Homo sapiens: one gene and its partners. The protein of the gene in region 2 purifies or fractionates together with the protein of the main gene of each other region. This does not show direct contact. Each region holds a gene or a part of one and is shown on either strand. Other genes may lie near its edges.

Region 1 (3,518 bases), on a different chromosome or scaffold from region 2:
CCCACATTTTCTCTCAAACAAGAGTAGGAATAACAGTGCTCAGCAGTAGTGTGCTAGGAAGCTCAATGTGAATTGCTTTATCCTAATTAGTGTATTAAACATTGCATTGCACTATGACCTATACAACTAACCCAGAAATGCAGAAATATTTTGAAAGAAAAGAACTGCTGTGAGTATAGATTCACAGTTTACAATTATGGATTAATTTATCCCTACAGGTATTGTCATTACTGGTTCTGGCTCCAGCTGATTCCCTTTCCCTTTTTCCCTTAAAAAATCCAAAGTATGCCAGGCACAGTGGCTCACGCCTACAATCTGAACACTTTGGGAGGCTGAGGCGGGAGGATCACCTGAGATCAGGAGCTTGAGAGCAGCCTGGCCAACATAGCGAAACCCCGTCTCTACTAAAAATACAAAATTAGCCGGGCATGGTGGTGCATGCTTGTAGTCCCAGCTACTCAGGAGGCTGAGGCAGGAGAATCACTTGAACCTGGGAGGCAGAGGTTGCAGTGAGCCGAGATCGTGTCACTGCACTCCAGCCTGGGCGACAGAGTAAGGCTTTGTCTCAAAAAACAAAACAAAACAAAACAAAAAAAAAAAACAAAGTAGGCTGGGTGCAGTGGCTGACGCCTGTAATCTCAGCATTTTTGGAGGTTGAGGCGGGCAGATCACTTGAGATCAGGAGTTCGAGACCATACTGGCCAACATGGCGAAACCCCAGCTCTACTAAAAATACAAAAATTAGTCCGGGCGTGGCGGCAGGCGCCTGTAATCCTGGCTACTTGGGAGGCTGAGGCAGGAGAATCACTTGAATCTGGGAGGTGGAGGTTGCAGTGAGCCAAGATCATGCCACTGCACTCCAGCCTGGGCAACAGAGTGAAACTCAATCACACCACTGTGCTTCAGCCTGGGAGACAGAGTGAGACTCCATCTCAAAAAAACAAAACAAAACAAACAAAAAAAAAATTCTAGACCAGGTGCGGTGGCTCACGCCTGTAATCCCAGCACTTTGGGAGGCTGAGGCAGGTGGATCATGAGGTCAGGAATTTGAGACCAGCCTGACCAACATGGTAAAACCGTATCTCTACTGAAAATACAAAAAAAAATTAGCTGAGTGTGGTGGCGCGTGCCTGTAATCCCAGTTACTCAGGAGGCTGAGGCAGGAGAATCGCTTGAACCTGGGAGGCAGAGGTTGCAGTGAGCCAAGATCACGCCACTAAACTCCAGCCTGGGCAACAGAGCGAGACTCCGTCTCACAAAAAGAAAAAAAAATTCTGCTGGTAAAAAAAGAAAAAAGAGAAAAAAAGGAATAAAAAATTCTGTGAGGATCAAAGAGAAACAGAAATCACACCTACTTGTGGAGGGGAAGTATTGGGAATCAGCATATGCATCTCCTTTTGAAAAGGGCTTCGAAGGATAGTAAGGATTTTAACAGGAAGAAACTGGCGATAGGGAAGAAAACAGAGGGCAGGGAAAAGAAGGGAAGGCATACTGGATGAAGAAATAAGCTGAACATGGCATAAAAGTTGCAAAGTGCACATTAAGCCCAGGGAATATTTAGTAGTCCAGCTCAGCTGGAACCTGGAGTAGAAATAAGGGAATAGAGTCAGATAAGCTTGGCAAGGTAAGTTAGAACCAGACTTTTTGGTAGGTACTTTAGATATTATAAACACACTGCTGCTTACTTCAAAGGTTTATCATCTTGAGAGGTAAGTGTTTTTGGAGCCTCTGGGCCAATTAAATCTGATGGTTCTTCAGCCTCTGCATGAAAGATATTAAGAAACACATTCACATTCTGACTAATTGGTTACTTTAATGTTTCATCTGTTCTGAGTTAGTCTATCAGAAGAACCTACTTGTTCGATCCTTCCAGGGATTTTCCAGAAACTCTTCTTGGGATTCTTTAGAGCTTGAATCACTGGACTCTTTTCTGCTCTTCTTAGACCTCTTTTTCTTATATTTCTTCCTATAGGGATTTTAATTTGATACAAATTCACTTAATCTTCCTATGTTAGAGGGCATCTTAATTTTTCTTTTCTTTTTAAATTTTGAACTGGTGACTATACATCTTAATTTTTCAAGGCAAAGAAAGGTGACAATAAAATGATCTGAATTCCCAGCTTATTCAAACTTACAAGATAATTTTACTTAAAAAAATCTGCTTCTAACTGAACCTGGGAAACAGAGCAAGACCCCGTCTCTATTAAAAAAAAAAAAAAGTAGCTGGGTGTGATGGCACACATCTGTAGTCTAAGCTATTCAGGAGGCTGAGGCGGGAGGATCACTTGAGCCCAGGAGTTCGAGGCTGCAATGAGCTATGATTAGCCCACTGCACTCCAGTCTGGGCAACAGAGCGAGACACTGCCTCTTAAGAATTTTTTTAAAAAGTATTCTAACTTATTTAACCAAATCATCTTTTGCTATAAAAATTATCACTAAAGGAGGCTGGGTGTAGTGTTTCACCCCTGTAATCCCAGCACATTGGAAGACTGAGGCGGGTGGGTCACTTGAGCCCAGGGGTTAGAAACTAGCCCTGGGCAACATGACGAAACCGTGTCTCTACAAAAAATACAAAAATTAGCCAGGTGTGGTGGCACACGCCTGTAGTCCCAGGTATGGGGAAAGTGGGGGCAGAGGTGGGAGGATGGCTTGATCCTGGAAGGTTGAGGTTGTAGTGAGCTGTGATCGTGCCACTGCATTCCAGCCTGGGTGACAGGGTGAGACACGGTCTCAAAAAAAAAAAAATTCACTAAAGGGAACAATGAAATACAGTTCTGATGTTGTAGAAAGACAACAGAAATAAAACAGCCTAAAAAGTCCCAACAATTTGAACATTATGAATAATTTTATGTGTAATGGATTAAAATATGTCAAATATGTTTAAATCCTTGGGTTAATAATACTTTTTAAAAATCCAATTCATTATTTGAAAAGTCATTAAAACAAAAAAAATCAAGCAATTATCCTGCTCTTACAATATAAACTATATTTCAGGGTATCTAAATAGTTGATGAGGGTAAGTTTCTCTTATAGAATCATTCTGCCTAATAAATGAAGGATAAAGCCAGGATTAGACTATCACCATTTTACAACCCCTAATGAAATAATGGATCGAGATAATGACCATCAATGGCTGTTAATATGACAAAAAGTGACAACCAGACATTATTTGCCTCCTGACAGTAAACAGCACCACTTATGAAGTATTCTTGCCCCAACTCAAATCTGAGCCTTCTCAGGCCTCTAGACCTATTAATCTATTGGAAATACAGAGGACAGAACATGCCAAAGAATACCATAAGAATACGGTCACTGCAATTTAGGGACATTATTTGGATCCTGATTGGAATAAACTACAGAAAAAACTGCTGAGAATAGAGGAATTATTATTAAATGTTTTAGGCACAATAATAGCATTCTGGTTATGGGTTTTTGTTTTTTTTTTAAATATAGAGACAGGATCTCGCTATGTTGCCCAGGCTGGTATTGAACTCCTGGGCTCAAGCGATCCTCCTGCC
Region 2 (3,518 bases):
GAAAAAAAAAGAGAACCTTGCATAAAGCTCAGCAATGACTCTCACAATGGATCCACTATGACTACTGGGTGGAGGATGGATTGGGAAGGGGCAAGAGCAGCTGCAGGCAGCCCCATCAGGCAGCTGGGGCAGGAATCTCGGTGAGAGATAATACCAGCTTGGGTTAGGGAGGTGGCAGAGGAGACTGCTTGTAAGAGAAGCAGTGAAGGGGTGTCTTGTTTATTGTTTTTTTAATCTCAGAGCCCAACACCATGCTCAGAAGACAATAACAACTTAGTAAATATTGTGAGTGATTTGAAAGAAAGTCAAAGCTTTACGTTATTTCTCTCTGTGGAGATTTTTGAGACTAGGCAGGTAAATATGTATTACCAGTTAAGGAGGCTAATTTTTCTTGCACAGTGTCCACTACAGATGACACAGATACATAATAAAAGGGCAAAGTGGTAATGAAGGCAGCATGAGTGAAGGTTAAAGATGAGAACAAGCATTCATATTCAAAGATACTCAGAGGCCCAATCTATGAGGGAGGAGTTCATGTAGAGCAGAAGGAAATAAAGTTAGATTGGTTAAGAGTGGCCAAATCTTGCCCCAGGAAGTGATATACAAAAGCAATGGTTAGTATATTCGAAATCCTTATGATGACTTCAAGAAACAAAGACAAGGGTCATGGAGACAAGGTTCCAGGAGACTGACATAGTAATTCAAGAGAGATGAGAAAGTAAATGAGTGTAGCACCCATGGAAATGTTTAAAGGTAGGATCAGTAAGAAATGGGACAAGTGGACAAAGAGAAAGGCAGAAAAAGATGAGTCAAAATTGACTTAGGTTTCCAGCTTAGGCAGCTAGGATAATGCTGGTTTTACTGGAAATAAGGAATATTCACTATGGTAGGAAGAAAATAGTTTCGTTTTAGACATATTAAAGTTTGAGATAATGATGGGACACAATTATAACCATCTTTAGGAAGACATGAATTAGAATTCAGAGACTATAGGTAAAATATTTGGCAGTCATCAACATGGAAATGATGACAGAACATTTGAGAGCAAGAACTTGAGTAAGAAACGTCACAGAATACCTCCAAGTTTTTTTTTTTTTAATTATTTTTTTAGGAGGGTAGGGAAAAAGAAGCCAGGGTAGAAAACAGAGGAGTACAGCTAAGAGAAACTGGATATTATCATCCCACCAAGGCCAGGAGATAATCAGAAAAGAGCCACCTCTAAAGAGACAGAGATGACTCTTTAGAGACTTCTTTCCAAGAAGATTCTTAGAGTAAGTGGGTAGGCTGGAGGGTTGGAACAGATGGAACACAAATGACAGAGCATCACGTAACATGAGGAAAATCATCAAGTAGATCACTGAATATGCCAAGAGTATTAAAGCTAAATTATTAAAAGTTAAAATTATATGAAATATCACAGTCTTGGATGAGAAAACTAAAGAGGTTAGGGTTTGGTTTTTTATTGTTAAATTAAAACAAGATTAAAGTCTACTAAAATAAGTTATACAATTTTATAGCAAAATAGCTAAGGTGAAATTAGGATTGAATATTAAGTAATTAATAATCTAATTTTATAAAATCTGAAAATGAATAAACATATTATAGATTGCTTTTTTCCCTGAAGTTTTCTAATCAAATAATCTTAAATCATATCCCACATCAAGCTAAAGAATTTAGGCCCTAAAAATGCAGAATAAAGCAATATGGTAAAAGATAGAAAAGGAGCAAGAAAGAAACAGCAATAATTTAGTGTGGAAAGAAGGAAGTGAAGGTTTACTAATGTGGAATATAGGAATGTTTGCATAATGCATATATTCGCTTATTCAGCAAATCTATATTAGACATAAAATAGGTATAATGTGTTGGGGCTACCAGGATGAATGCAGTATCACTCCTCAATGGATTTACAGTCTAAAGTACTACGTTTACAATACAAAATATATTTTATTGTTGTACTTAAGTAAAACCTAAAGTAATGTGATTACTTTTTAACCATCCAACCTAGATTTTTGTTGATCACATAAGTCTAAATTACATTGGCTGAGATTTTACAAAAAGACCCTCAAATTCTAAGATGATCTAAAGTGTTAAATGTGTATAGAAAAAAATTCTACTGCATTAGTGGTTAGAAAAAACATCAATTCCTATAACCCTATAGCCCTGACATTTAAATTTTAGGAGATGGCAACCATGACATAACAGGAAGAAAGATCCTCTGAATTTTTCCTACGACATTTTAGCTAGGAATTTGATGATACTGACAAGACTAAGCAGACAATTTGTAGATTTCCTCCCACATTTAGTTTAGTTAACAGTTCTTATTAAACCAAACATCCAGCAACTAAATTAAATTTTGTTTTGGCCCATACAGTACATTATTATGGTTCATTAATACTCACCAAATGGGATACCTTAACAGATCCTTCACAATTAGAAGGTTCACCCTTCTCTCTGCTTTCCAAAATCTAGATAGAAAAGGCAAGCTGTAGAAAAATTAGTGCATTCTTACTTGGAAAGATCTAACAGATAGATAGAATTACCTACCATCCTAAAGATGGTATGAGAACGACTGCTTCTTTGATTCATTTTTGTTTCTCCATAATGCCTGCTCTCTGTAAAAATGAGTTATATTTCAGCTGCATATATAATAAAATCCATAGAAACACAATAATTTTTATTTTAACTTAAAAAAGTATGATTTGAGGTCCAAACGTGCTTGATTGAAAAGATAGTTTTTACAAGTGTTCTAAAGAAATACAGCATAAAGTCTTACTTTCTCCCTTTGTAATCCATTTCAAAGCCATTTCTGATGTATATACAACTTCTTCTGTGAGATCAGCAACATACACATTCCTCTGAAACAAGTTTAATTATGGAAAGATTAGAGAAATAGAAGTCACAAGTTTGCTTTTCAAAAGAAGGTGCAAACTATTATAGAATTCATTTGTGAAAGTTAAAAGTGGCAAATGGAACCATAATTCTGTAGGAATGTAACAAATAATTCTATGAATACCCACAATTTATTTCACATACCAAAGCACAACAAATTCTAACCTGATACTTCCAACTTGCTATTTTTACACTTAAACCAAAATATTAGAGCTGTCAGTATTTTAAAACTATTCATATTGTTTAAAAGATGAATATAAATACTTCAAAAAAACCCTCACATACTATAGAAATAGGAGACACTTTAAAAACTATAGAAATTAAAGGTAAACATTCAAGAACAATAATCTCAATAAGTCAGTCAATTTTAAAGCTCCCTTAAGTCTGCTACTCACATTGACATCTTCTCGAATAATTAAAGGTTTCATTTTTTGAGTGCCACAGAGTAAATCTGTAATGGTTTCATTGTATATTTCCATGTAAGATACACGTAAGAGAAATTCCCTATCAGGAAACTAGAAGAAAAAAAATTATATAAAAACACCAGGAAGCATCCAATTGTGAAAACCTAATGCTAAATGCTCATGTGCTTAAAGAGGTAAAATGTATGTAAAACAAACTAAGAAACC
Region 3 (3,518 bases), on a different chromosome or scaffold from region 2:
TGGAGCATTGACTCCCCGCCCCTTCCCGCTGTGTGAGCTCCCTGGGGGCCTCAGCCTCCCTGGCTATGCTTCCCACCAGCTTGGGCAGTGATGGTCCCGAGCCCAGGTTCTGGAGTGGGGCTTGGCACTGGCATTTTAAAATCCCTGCACGTGACTGTGGCTGACAGCCGGGGTTGAGGACTGCCAGTCCCATGGAAGAATGCAGGCTCTGGGGCCGTCCCGACAGGCAGCAGCACCCCTCTCTGGGGCAAGGCCTCTGCAGGCTGATGGCTGCCCTCCCATGTCTCAGGCCACCAAGGTGTGTGGCAGGGTGGGCCTGGGCCTCCAGCCTGGCCCCGGGCGCTGGGGAGGGCAGCAGTGGCTCTGTCTCGGGGCAGCACACCCAACCATGAGTGCCGGCCTTGTGCTGGTGGACCTGGAAGCCCGGCCCTGACTGTGCCCACAGGGTGGCAAAGGGACGGGGGTGTCCTTCGTGTCGTTTCCTCCTGCCCTGTTCTGCTCGTAGGAGATTAAAAAACTCAAAGAATTAATGAGCGCCACCGAGAAAGCCCGCCGGGAGAAGTGGATCAGTGAGAAAACCAAGAAGATCAAGGAGGTCACTGTCCGAGGTGGGCCCTCCCCTCCCATGAGCCGGCCAGGTGTGGGGTGGGTGCTGCGGCCAGGGCTTCTTTTGAGAGAGCCATAACTTCAGGCATTCATGTAGTCCGAGACCTTCCTGGGCAGAGGTGAACACTCATGCCCCAACCACCCCCGTCACGGCCTCCGCTGCGGCTTCTGCCGTGACCCGGGGGGCAGGTGGGCTCCACACAGGAGCCTGGCCCAGCCCCCAGCATCTAGGCAGTTGCCTGAAACGAGGGGGCTCAGTGCCTCACTTCCTCAGGGTTGGGCTAGGGGAGATTGGGAGTTTGTGGACGACTGTGGCACGTGGGCCCTGCCACGGGAAGCAGAGTGAGCCACAGGAGGAGGCAGGGGCAGGCAGGCGGATGGGGCAGGAGGCTGGTGGGTGTTGTGGTCTGAAGGGGCCTCGGACCCTTGGGTGATGTGCAGGGCTCCCCGAGGCCTGGTCCTCTCGCTCTGGACACCTGCCAGGGTGCCTGGGAGCCGTCAGTGGTAGCACCAGGAGTGTCAGGAGCCCTGAGCCCCACAGGCTGGGAGAGGCGCCGTGGCCCTGTGGGGGTCTCTTCCCCACCTCGTGGGCGTCAAGACTCAGCTGTGCTTCGGGTTGGATCCAAGGAGGCCCTGGGTGGGCGGGGTCCCCTCTGGGCCTGAGACAGGCTGGTCTTGTGCCAGGGTTGGACTTCCCGGGCCCACCCTAGCTGGACGTGGCCCTAGCTGGTGCCCCGCCCCCAGGTCTGGAGCCCGAGATCCAGAAGCTGATTGCAAGGCACAAGCAGGAAGTGCGGAGGCTCAAGAGCCTGCACGAGGCGGAGCTGCTGCAGTCGGATGAGCGGGCCTCGCAGCGCTGCCTGCGCCAGGCCGAGGAGCTGCGGGAGCAGCTGGAGCGGGAGAAGGAGGCGCTGGGCCAGCAGGAGCGCGAACGTGCTCGGCAGCGGTGGGTGGTGGCCCCAGGCCGGTGGGGCCAGGACCCTCAGGGCGGGGAGTCGGAATCCTCGAAGGCTGGAGTGGAGTTCCCATGTAGAGGTGGGCGAGGGTCTTAGTGCAGCATGCAGGGAGGACGCAGGGCCCTTGGCCCTGGAGTGGCCCTTGGGGGCCCAGCCTCAGCCGGGCCAGTGTCCTCGGGCTTGTGTCTGCAGTTCATGCCCGCCGAGGTCTGCAGGTTCTGCATGGGTGCACGGGTGTTTTCCCAGGGTCAGGGCTGGGAACCCCCACCAGACATCCACTCTTTCACAACTGGCCCCAGAGCAGCAACCCGTGGATAGGCGGCCTCGAGGCCCCTCCAGCTCTGACCTTGGGGCCCAGGGACGGTCTCTCTCATTCACTCCCTTGGCCTGGGGTCTGAGGGGTGACTGCTGCTCTTGCGTCCTGAGCCCTGGGGGCTGGGGACGTGCCCAGTGGTGGTCAGGATCTGCGGGCCACAGGGGGCAGTGGCAGCCCCTCCTGCACTGTCTGCGCCACCAGGACAGCCTGGAAGCCACCCTCTCCTATCCACCCTGTTGCCTGTCGTGGCTGGTCCTCCCCAGATGCAGCTTGGCTGGTCCCCCAGTCTCTCCTCGAAGGTGGGGTCAGGACGAGGCCCTGGCGCGAGCTTGCTCAGGTCACGGAGCCAGGCACCTGGCACCCTCAGGCCGGAGGCAGGGGAGGTGGATAAGGCCCCACGAGGCACCTGCCTCCCGCCCTCCATGCCCGTGGGGCAATGCTGAACAGGGTGAGGCCGGCACACGGGCTGAGGGAAAAGGGGGCCTGGACGCGGCTCCACAGCCACTTCCCAAAGTGCCACGAGGGCCTGGAGCTCAGGGAATTGCTGCGCTTGGCTGATGGGCAAGTTCCTCGTGGCCTTGCCTGCCCCCGGGCGGTGGCTTTGAGGGGCCTTGACTGCCGAGGGGGAGGGGCAGGGCCCCGGAGGGCTGCTCTCCAGCTGTGAGTCAGGCCTGTGGTCGGCCCGTGCCCCTGCGGTGGGTGGGTCCTGGGACCGCCCGTCCCGGCCCCCGAGAGCCAGTCCTGACCGTCCCGCAGGTTCCAGCAGCACCTGGAGCAGGAGCAGTGGGCGCTGCAGCAGCAACGGCAGCGGCTGTACAGTGAGGTGGCTGAGGAGAGGGAGCGGCTGGGCCAGCAGGCAGCCAGGTGCCGCCCGGGGGCACCACGCCCTCTCCCAGGGACCCCTCGCTGGCTGACCCCTCCCCCCCGCCCCCTCACCCGCTGACCTCTCCCATCCCTGACTCCTTACTCGATGACCCCTCACCTGCTGACTCCTCCCTGGCCGCAGGCAGCGGGCGGAGCTGGAAGAGCTGAGGCAGCAGCTGGAGGAGAGCAGCTCTGCACTGACCCGAGCCCTGAGGGCTGAGTTTGAGAAGGGCAGGGAGGAGCAGGAGCGCCGGCACCAGGTCTACCACCGGAGGGCTGTGCTGGGCCTGGCCAGGGGGCTGCACGGGGTGGGACTGACTGGCCTCTTATGTCCGCCCCCCAGATGGAGCTGAATACCCTGAAGCAGCAGCTGGAGCTGGAGAGGCAGGCGTGGGAGGCCGGCCGCACCAGGAAGGAGGTGGGGGCCTGGGCACCCAGGTGGGCAGGGGTTGGGGGCTGCCCTGCGTGGGCAGGAGTTGGGGGCTGCCCCAGGTGGGTTTTGCTGCTGCTGTGGCATCCTGGGGGCTCGTTTCTGGGAGTCACATCTGGCTGCTTGGGGTTGTTGTCTGAACTGACGCTGAGTGTGTTGCTTTCAGCCCATCTTTTGCGTGGGCTCTGGAAGGATCAAGGGTGCCTGGAGCGCATCCTCTGTGGTCCGAGAACAGGCGTTGCCCCTCTCGCTAGGGGCTGCTACACCCCTGCGCCCCACGACCAGCCCACTGACACTCAGATGTACCGAGAGGGACACGCACAACAGGGGCTCCCCCCTTAGCCTC
Region 4 (3,518 bases), on a different chromosome or scaffold from region 2:
CCTGGCAGGCTGCACAGCGCTCCTAGCTACAGTGGGGCTAGGAAGTCTCGCCATTACAGGGTGGGTGCCCCCAGAACACGAAGCGGGGATAGGTTCACTTTAAAAGCAATTGCCAAAGAGGAAACATTCATAAGGAGAGAGAAGAAAAGAAGCATTAAGGACAGCATAGTTTTAAATTCAGAAACGTTAAATCAAAAATTTTAACAGAATATTTTGCTAATTATTTTTGGGGAGAAAAAATCACGAAAGAACTTCAAAAGCAAATACAAACTCAGGAAATAAGAGATAGTGGCTACCCAAAGCAAATGGGGTAAGAATAGGTGTTCAGAGCTGGGAGGATTTACTCTGTCTTGAGAATACATGTCTTGGTGTAAAAAAAATAATAATTCAAAAAAGCAAATATTAGCTATCAAAAAATCAGTAGATTATGTCTGTGTTTTAGAATATTGTTTCCAATCTAATTTTTTTCTTTCTTTTTCTTTTTTGGAGATGGAGTCTGTCTCTGTCACCAGGCTGGAGTGCAGTGGCATGATCTTGGCTCACTGCAAACTCCGCCTCCCGGGGTCAAGTGATTCTCCTGCCTCAGCCTCCTGAGTAGCTGGGATTACAGGCGCGCACCACCACGCCCAGTTAATTTTTGTATTTTTATTAGAGATGAGGTTTCACCATGTTGGCCAGGATGGTCTTGATCTCTTGACCTCGTGATCCACCTGCCTCAGCCTCCCAAAGTGCTGGGATTACAGGTGTAAGCCACTGGGCCCAGCCTTTTTTTTTTTTTTTTTTTTTGACAGAGTCTCACTCTGTCGCCCAGGCTGGAATGCAGTGGCGCGATCTCGGCTCACTGCAGCCTCCACCTCCTGGGTTTAAGCATTTCTCCTGCCTCAGCCTCCCGAGTAGCTGGGATTACAGGCGTGCGCCACCATGCCTGGCCAATATTTTTGTATTTTTTAGTAGGGACGGGGTTTCACCATGTTGGCCAGGCTGGTCTTGAACTCCTGACTTCAGGTGATCCACCCACCTCTGCCTCCCTAAGTGCTGGGATTACAGGTGTGAGCCACTGCACCCGGCCTCAATCTACTTTTTAAAAGTATCAGTGTTCTTATACAATCTATAGGCACATCAAGGTAGATTTATTGAGCCTTAAAATGGGATTAATTTTTCTTATATTTACTGTTTTGCTCCCATGGGTATCTGCCTGTTATTTTACACCAGCCATTCAAATATTTCTTTTTTTAAAAAACAAACTGATTTGCAAAGAGTTCCTAATGAGTGCAAGGATATACTTAGCTACAAATGCACCAAGAAACTGAGGAACAACTCGGGGAGGAACTGTAGGCAGCTGATCTAACAGCAGGTCTACAGAACGGGGCACTGACATAGAGGCCTTTTGGGATGTCAATAACCTAATGGGATGAACTATTTTTTTTTCCAGGAAGGGTGTCTGTGTGTCCAAGGTAAGCACAAAACCAATTAACAACATCAACAACAACAAAACTAGGCTGGGTACAGTGGCTCACGCCTGTAGCTCCAGCACTTTGGGAGGCTGAGGTGGGAGGATCGCTTGAGCCCAGGAGTTTAAGATCAGACTGGGCAACATGGCAAAACCCCATCACCACAAAAAATACAAAAATTAGCCAGGTGTGGTGGTTGGGCCTACAGTCCCAACTACTTGGGAGGCTGAGGTTGGAGGGTCAATTGAGCCCAGGAGGTTGAGGCTGTAATGAGCCAAGATGGCGCACTGCATTCCAGCCTGAGTAACAGAGTGAGACACTGCCTCAAAAAAACAAACAATGCCCCCCGCAAAAATAAGAAAATTTTTCACTTGATTGAAGCAATGATCTCTGAATGAACTACTCTGGGAAATTAATTCTGAATATATTGAAACATATTATTCAAAACAAACTTCCTATTGTTTGGAAAGTTATCAAACTGCAATTTAATTTTTAGAAATTTCTGGCAATTAATCCCAGCACTTTGGGAGGCTGAGGCATGGATCACCTGAGGTCAGGAGTTTGAGACCAGCCTGGCCAACATGGTGAAACCCCGTCTCTACTAAAAATACAAAAATTAGCTGAGTGTGGTGGCACATGCCTGTAATCCCAACTACTCGGGAGGTGGAGGCAGGAGAATCGCTTGAACCCAGGAGGCGGAGGTTGCAGTGAGCCGAGATCATGCCACTGCACTCCGTTCTGGGTGACAGAGCAAGACTCTCTCTCAAAAAAAAAAAAAAAAAAAAAAAAAAAAGAAAAAAAGAAAAGAGATTTCTGGCAATTAAGAACAAAACAAACCTTATCTTTTAGAGGGGCGTACTGGGATATTTATGGATGAAATGGTAAGACCTCTAGTGTTTGCTTGAAAATAGCACAGGAGGAAAGGGGAAATGAATGGCACACGGGCTGAGCATCACCGGCCAGGAGCGGGTGACCGTGGAAGCTGGGGTTTCATCACAGCAATCCACCAAGTTTCATGTTTCTATTTTCCGTTGTCAAAGAGATTTTTAAAATATCAATATGCAGAGACAGAAACAAAATAGAACAAAAACTCCTTTCAAGTTTTTCTAGAAGATACACATCCCATTACAAAGTTTAGAGAGACCACAGTAAACAAAATCCCTTAGTACTAACTTCTCTGTGGCTTCTAGCTAAATCACCTCCCCAATGCCTCATTTTCATTGAACACTCTTTAAATGTATTTTTTTAAAAAAAGACACTATAGACAAGGCTGAGAAGTCCTGTGGGCACTTACGTGGCTGCGATGACCACCTCTTCAGTGGTGATGGGCTGGGTGAGGGACCTGTCCTGCAGACGGCGTAGCCTCTGCTCCACAGCTGTGTTTCTTGAGCGTCGCTTTGGAACATTTTGTTCATCAAAAGATTTTTCCATCTCCTAAGATTAGAAGTATTGTGGAACCCTTATAAATTCAAGGAAAGAGCTGGGCACGGTGGCTCACGCCTGTAATCCCAGCACTTTGGGAGGCTAAGGAGGGAAGATTGCTGGAGGCCAAGAGTTCAAGACCAGCCTGGGCAACAAAGTGAGACCCCCTCATCTCTACAAAAAATGCATAAATTAGCCAGGCATGCTGGCACAGGCCTGTAGTCCCAGCTACTTGGGAGGCTGAGGTGGGAACATCACTTGAGCCTGGGAAGTTGAGGCTGCAGTGAGCTATGATCACATTGCTGCACTCAACCCTGAGTGAGAGAGTGAGACCCTATCTCTAAAAAAAAATTAAAAATAACAAAGAAATTCAAGGAAAGGAAATGGGGGTAGTAAAAATTCTTCACTTTGTTCTCCTACAGGACCTACAGGAGGGGTCACTAATGAGCACCTCGTATTGTTGTCAGAAGTGTACACTCATGCTGTGTCCATGAGGTGGCCACAACCAGCCAAAGATTAGGAAGAGAACAACAGGTGGGCCAGAGGCAGGAGGGCCTTAGCATGCCCAGAGGTGCATGAAGTAGGCTGGGTCCACAAGATTCCCCCTCCCTAAGGCTTACAATTTTTATTTTTTTTGAGATGGGG
Region 5 (3,518 bases), on a different chromosome or scaffold from region 2:
TGAATCCCTGCATGATTTGGCCAGTGTAGCCCTGGCATTCATGAGGCTAGGGAATGACACTGGAGAGCACTTCCTGGTCCCCCAAGATGATTCCAGAAATGAATTCCCTTGTTGCCTGCCGGCTGCATCCCTCCAGTTCAAGGAGCAATCACACAATATGGTAAATCAGATAATTTCCTTCATTCAAAATGAAAACAGCAGAACTGAAATTAAGAAAGAAGGCTATAATTACCCAGAGAATCTCTGTTAAATGTCGAACTTGTCTGAGTTTCCATATTACAACTCTCTTTAGCTTGATGATATTCTGCCAATTCTTTTAAAAAATGCATAAGAAAACCTAAAAAACATATGCATACAGTTTTGTTTCAGAACTTTCAACCACTGCTCAGTCACTGTTTTTACAATCTTAGTTTTAGGACATTATCATTTTTTACATTATATATCTTTCCTTTTTTTTAGAGACAAAAGTCTTGCTCTGTCACCCAGGCTGGAGTGCAGTGGTGTAATCATGGCTCACTGCGGCCTCGACCTCCTGGGCTCAAGCAATCCTCCTACATCAGTCTCCCAAGTAGCTGGGACTAGAGGTGCACACCACCACCCACCACGCCCAGCTAATTTTACTTTTTGTATAAACAGGGTCTTGCTATGTTGCCCAGGCTAGTCTCAAACTCATGGCCTCAAGCAATCCTCCTGCCTGGGCCTCCCAAAGTGCTGGGATCACAAGCATGAGCCACTGTGCCCAGTCATATCTTTTAATAAATCTGAGAAAAGGCCTTCCCAAGCATGATACAGAACCTGGAAGGAATAAGGAGAAATATTTATCAATCTAACTACATAAAAACTGAAAACTTACATATGGCATAAAATAAAAAAATAACACACTGGGAAAAATAGTTGCAATAATATGGAGGCATAACCAAGACTAAAGTGATGACATTTTCATAACATCAAAGAACTCTTACAAATCAGTTTAAAAAAAAAAAATCAGAAAAATGGGGAAAAACATGGGTAGTTTGCAGAAAAAACTACATTGTCAAAGATGAACACAATTTTTAGATGCTGAATAAACATGAACAAAATCATAAATGCAAATTAATACAACAGAGAAACCATTATTTTCCCTATAACACTGCTAAGATTAAAACTTGTATAATGCTAAGTGTTGGCAAGGGAGTGGATATATAGCTATACTCATTCACTTGGAAGAGAAATTTGTCAGTGCTTATATATATTCGAAATGCATGTGCCCTTTAATCTAGTCATTCCACTTCTATGAATTTACACAGGTATACTTTCACAAGGGCACAAAGGGTGCACACTGCACATAGGTTACCTGTAATGGCAAAAAGCAAACAATAAAACAACCAGATCTCCATCAATAGGGGGTTAAATACATTATTTAAAAATAATTAGTCTATACTGCTACAGAAAGATACATTGGTGGATTAAAAAAAGCAAATTGCATACAGTATCTACGATATAATCCCAATTGATTGTGTTTTAATTACAAATACATAGTTTTAACCTCAAACAATTCTAGAAGATAAACAAGAAACTGTTAATTCTAGTTATCAGTGGAGTGAAACTGTTAATTCTAGTTATCAGTGGAGCGTGAGATTAGAGAACATGGGCAGAAACTGCTACTTTGCTTTCACTTTATATCCTTCTGAATAGTTTGAAACTGTTTTAAACCACAAGCATAAATTACTTAAGAAATGTTTAGTTTCTTGGAACTAAAAACAGTAGTTAGCTCAGCACCTTTTCCCCCACCCCCACTCCCTTCAGGAAGGGGATTAGATTTTGTCACAGTCTGCATACCATCCTGGGATCACCTGACCTAAATTTGCAAACATTAAGGTTCACTCTTGATGACGTAAAGCTCTATGGGTTTCGACACTGGGTCTTTCATTCTCTTAACAGCGTCTTTTGGCAGGGTACAGTGGCTCACGCTTGTCATCCCAGCACTCTGGGAGGCTGAGGCAGGCGATCACCTGAGGTCAGGGGATCGAGACCAGCCTGATCAACATGGTGAACCCCATCTCTATTGAAAACACAAAAAAATTAGCCAGGCGTGGTGGCAGGCGCCTGTAGTTCCAGCTACTCAGGAGGCTGAGACAGGAGAATCACTTGAACCCAGGAGGCAGAGGCTGCAGTGAGCCGAGGTCACGCCACTGCACTCCAGCCTGGGTGGCAGAGTGAAACTCCGTCTCAAAAACAAAACAAAAAGAACAGTGTCTTTCACAGAGATGTTTTTAATTTTAATAAAGTCTAACTGATCTACTTTTTTCTTTCATGTATCTTGCTCTTGGTGTTACATCTCATCACGAAACCCAAGATCACAGACTTTCTACTGTTCTCATCTGGAAGTTTTATAGTTTTGCATTTTACATTTAGGTCTATGGTTCATTTTGAGTTAGTTTTTGTGTAAGGTATAATAAATAAGATCTGTGTCTAGGTTCATTTTTGCGCATATGAATATCCAACTGTTACAGCACCACTTGTTGAAAAGACTATCTTTCCTCTATTGAATTGCCTTTGCACCTTTGTTAAAAAAAAAATCAATTGACTATATTTGTGTGGATGTATTTCTGGACTTCCTAATTCTGTCCCCATTGATGTATATGTCTTATTCTTTTGCCAATTGCAGATAAGAATTTTTACTTCCAAAAAGCAAAGGGCCGATGTCCAAATTTTCTTCCCTCATCCAAATTTTGTGCACATCATTTTCTGGATATTGTCAGGCCTCTGAGCCGAAGCTCAGCCATTGTAACCCCCGTAACCTGCATATATACGTCCAGATGGCCTGCAGGAGCCAGCTAAAAAACCACAGAAGTGAAACAGCTCCTGCCTTAACTGACTGACCAACCTTACGACATTCCACCATTATGACTTGTTCTGCCCTGCCCCAACTGATCAATCGACCTTGTGACATTCTTCTTCTGGACAATGAGTCCCAAGATCTCTCCACCATGCACCTTGGGACCCCCTCCCCTGCTAACAATAAATAACCACCTTTAACTGTAACTTTCCACTGCCTACTCAAGCCCTATAAAGCTGCCCCTCTCCTATCTCCCTTCACTGACTCTCTTTTCGGACTCAACCCACTTGCACCCAAGTGAATAAACAGCCTTGTTCCTCACACAAAGCCTGTTTGGTGGTCTCTTCACACAGACACGCATAACAGATATCATTATCTCTGAAAGGAAAATTAGCAGTGGGAAGAATGGGTGACTAGAATCTAGGAGGAAAAGTACCAAGGCCATTCAACAGCTTAGCACCCCCTGAGCATAGATATGGTAGGATAAGACCATAGGTCTGAGTCAGGGGACAGACAACGGTTAAGTACACAATATCTTCCTACATGTTTTCTGTTACTTAATTAGAAGACACCAATTTTTAAAAAAATTTTATCTTACCAGGAGCTATTTTGTTAGCTAAGAGTTCTATCCAAATTTTGGCACTAGGATGCCTGACCTATCTGCTACTCATAGTTTTTCTGGCTTCCAGAAATTTTACTG

The links.
Region 1: the proteins of CENPE (region 2) and NKAP purify together in Homo sapiens (affinity purification with western blotting; one study listed by BioGRID). This does not show direct contact.
Region 3: the proteins of CENPE (region 2) and CEP131 purify together in Homo sapiens (affinity purification with mass spectrometry; one large-scale study listed by BioGRID and IntAct). This does not show direct contact.
Region 4: the proteins of CENPE (region 2) and SVIL purify together in Homo sapiens (affinity purification with mass spectrometry; one large-scale study listed by BioGRID and IntAct). This does not show direct contact.
Region 5: the proteins of CENPE (region 2) and OFD1 purify together in Homo sapiens (affinity purification with mass spectrometry; one large-scale study listed by BioGRID and IntAct). This does not show direct contact.

What each region holds. Positions count from the first base shown.
Region 1 is NC_000023.11:119,930,251-119,933,768, forward strand, and holds part of NKAP (NF-kappa-B-activating protein), read right to left. Parts: intron 1,967-3,518; coding exon 1,857-1,966; intron 1,762-1,856; coding exon 1,686-1,761; intron 1-1,685. UniProt on the Homo sapiens protein: Acts as a transcriptional repressor. Plays a role as a transcriptional corepressor of the Notch-mediated signaling required for T-cell development. Also involved in the TNF and IL-1 induced NF-kappa-B activation.
Region 2 is NC_000004.12:103,191,830-103,195,347, forward strand, and holds part of CENPE (centromere-associated protein E isoform 1 precursor), read right to left. Parts: intron 3,405-3,518; coding exon 3,285-3,404; intron 2,856-3,284; coding exon 2,774-2,855; intron 2,613-2,773; coding exon 2,545-2,612; intron 2,466-2,544; coding exon 2,400-2,465; intron 1-2,399. UniProt on the Homo sapiens protein: Microtubule plus-end-directed kinetochore motor which plays an important role in chromosome congression, microtubule-kinetochore conjugation and spindle assembly checkpoint activation.
Region 3 is NC_000017.11:81,191,960-81,195,477, reverse strand, and holds part of CEP131 (centrosomal protein of 131 kDa), read left to right. Parts: intron 1-505; coding exon 506-608; intron 609-1,350; coding exon 1,351-1,552; intron 1,553-2,634; coding exon 2,635-2,742; intron 2,743-2,884; coding exon 2,885-3,002; intron 3,003-3,085; coding exon 3,086-3,160; intron 3,161-3,518. UniProt on the Homo sapiens protein: Component of centriolar satellites contributing to the building of a complex and dynamic network required to regulate cilia/flagellum formation.
Region 4 is NC_000010.11:29,526,960-29,530,477, forward strand, and holds part of SVIL (supervillin), read right to left. Parts: intron 2,886-3,518; coding exon 2,746-2,885; intron 98-2,745; coding exon 2-97; intron 1-1.
Region 5 is NC_000023.11:13,741,234-13,744,751, reverse strand, and holds part of OFD1 (centriole and centriolar satellite protein OFD1), read right to left. Parts: intron 338-3,518; coding exon 233-337; intron 1-232. UniProt on the Homo sapiens protein: Component of the centrioles controlling mother and daughter centrioles length. Recruits to the centriole IFT88 and centriole distal appendage-specific proteins including CEP164. Involved in the biogenesis of the cilium, a centriole-associated function.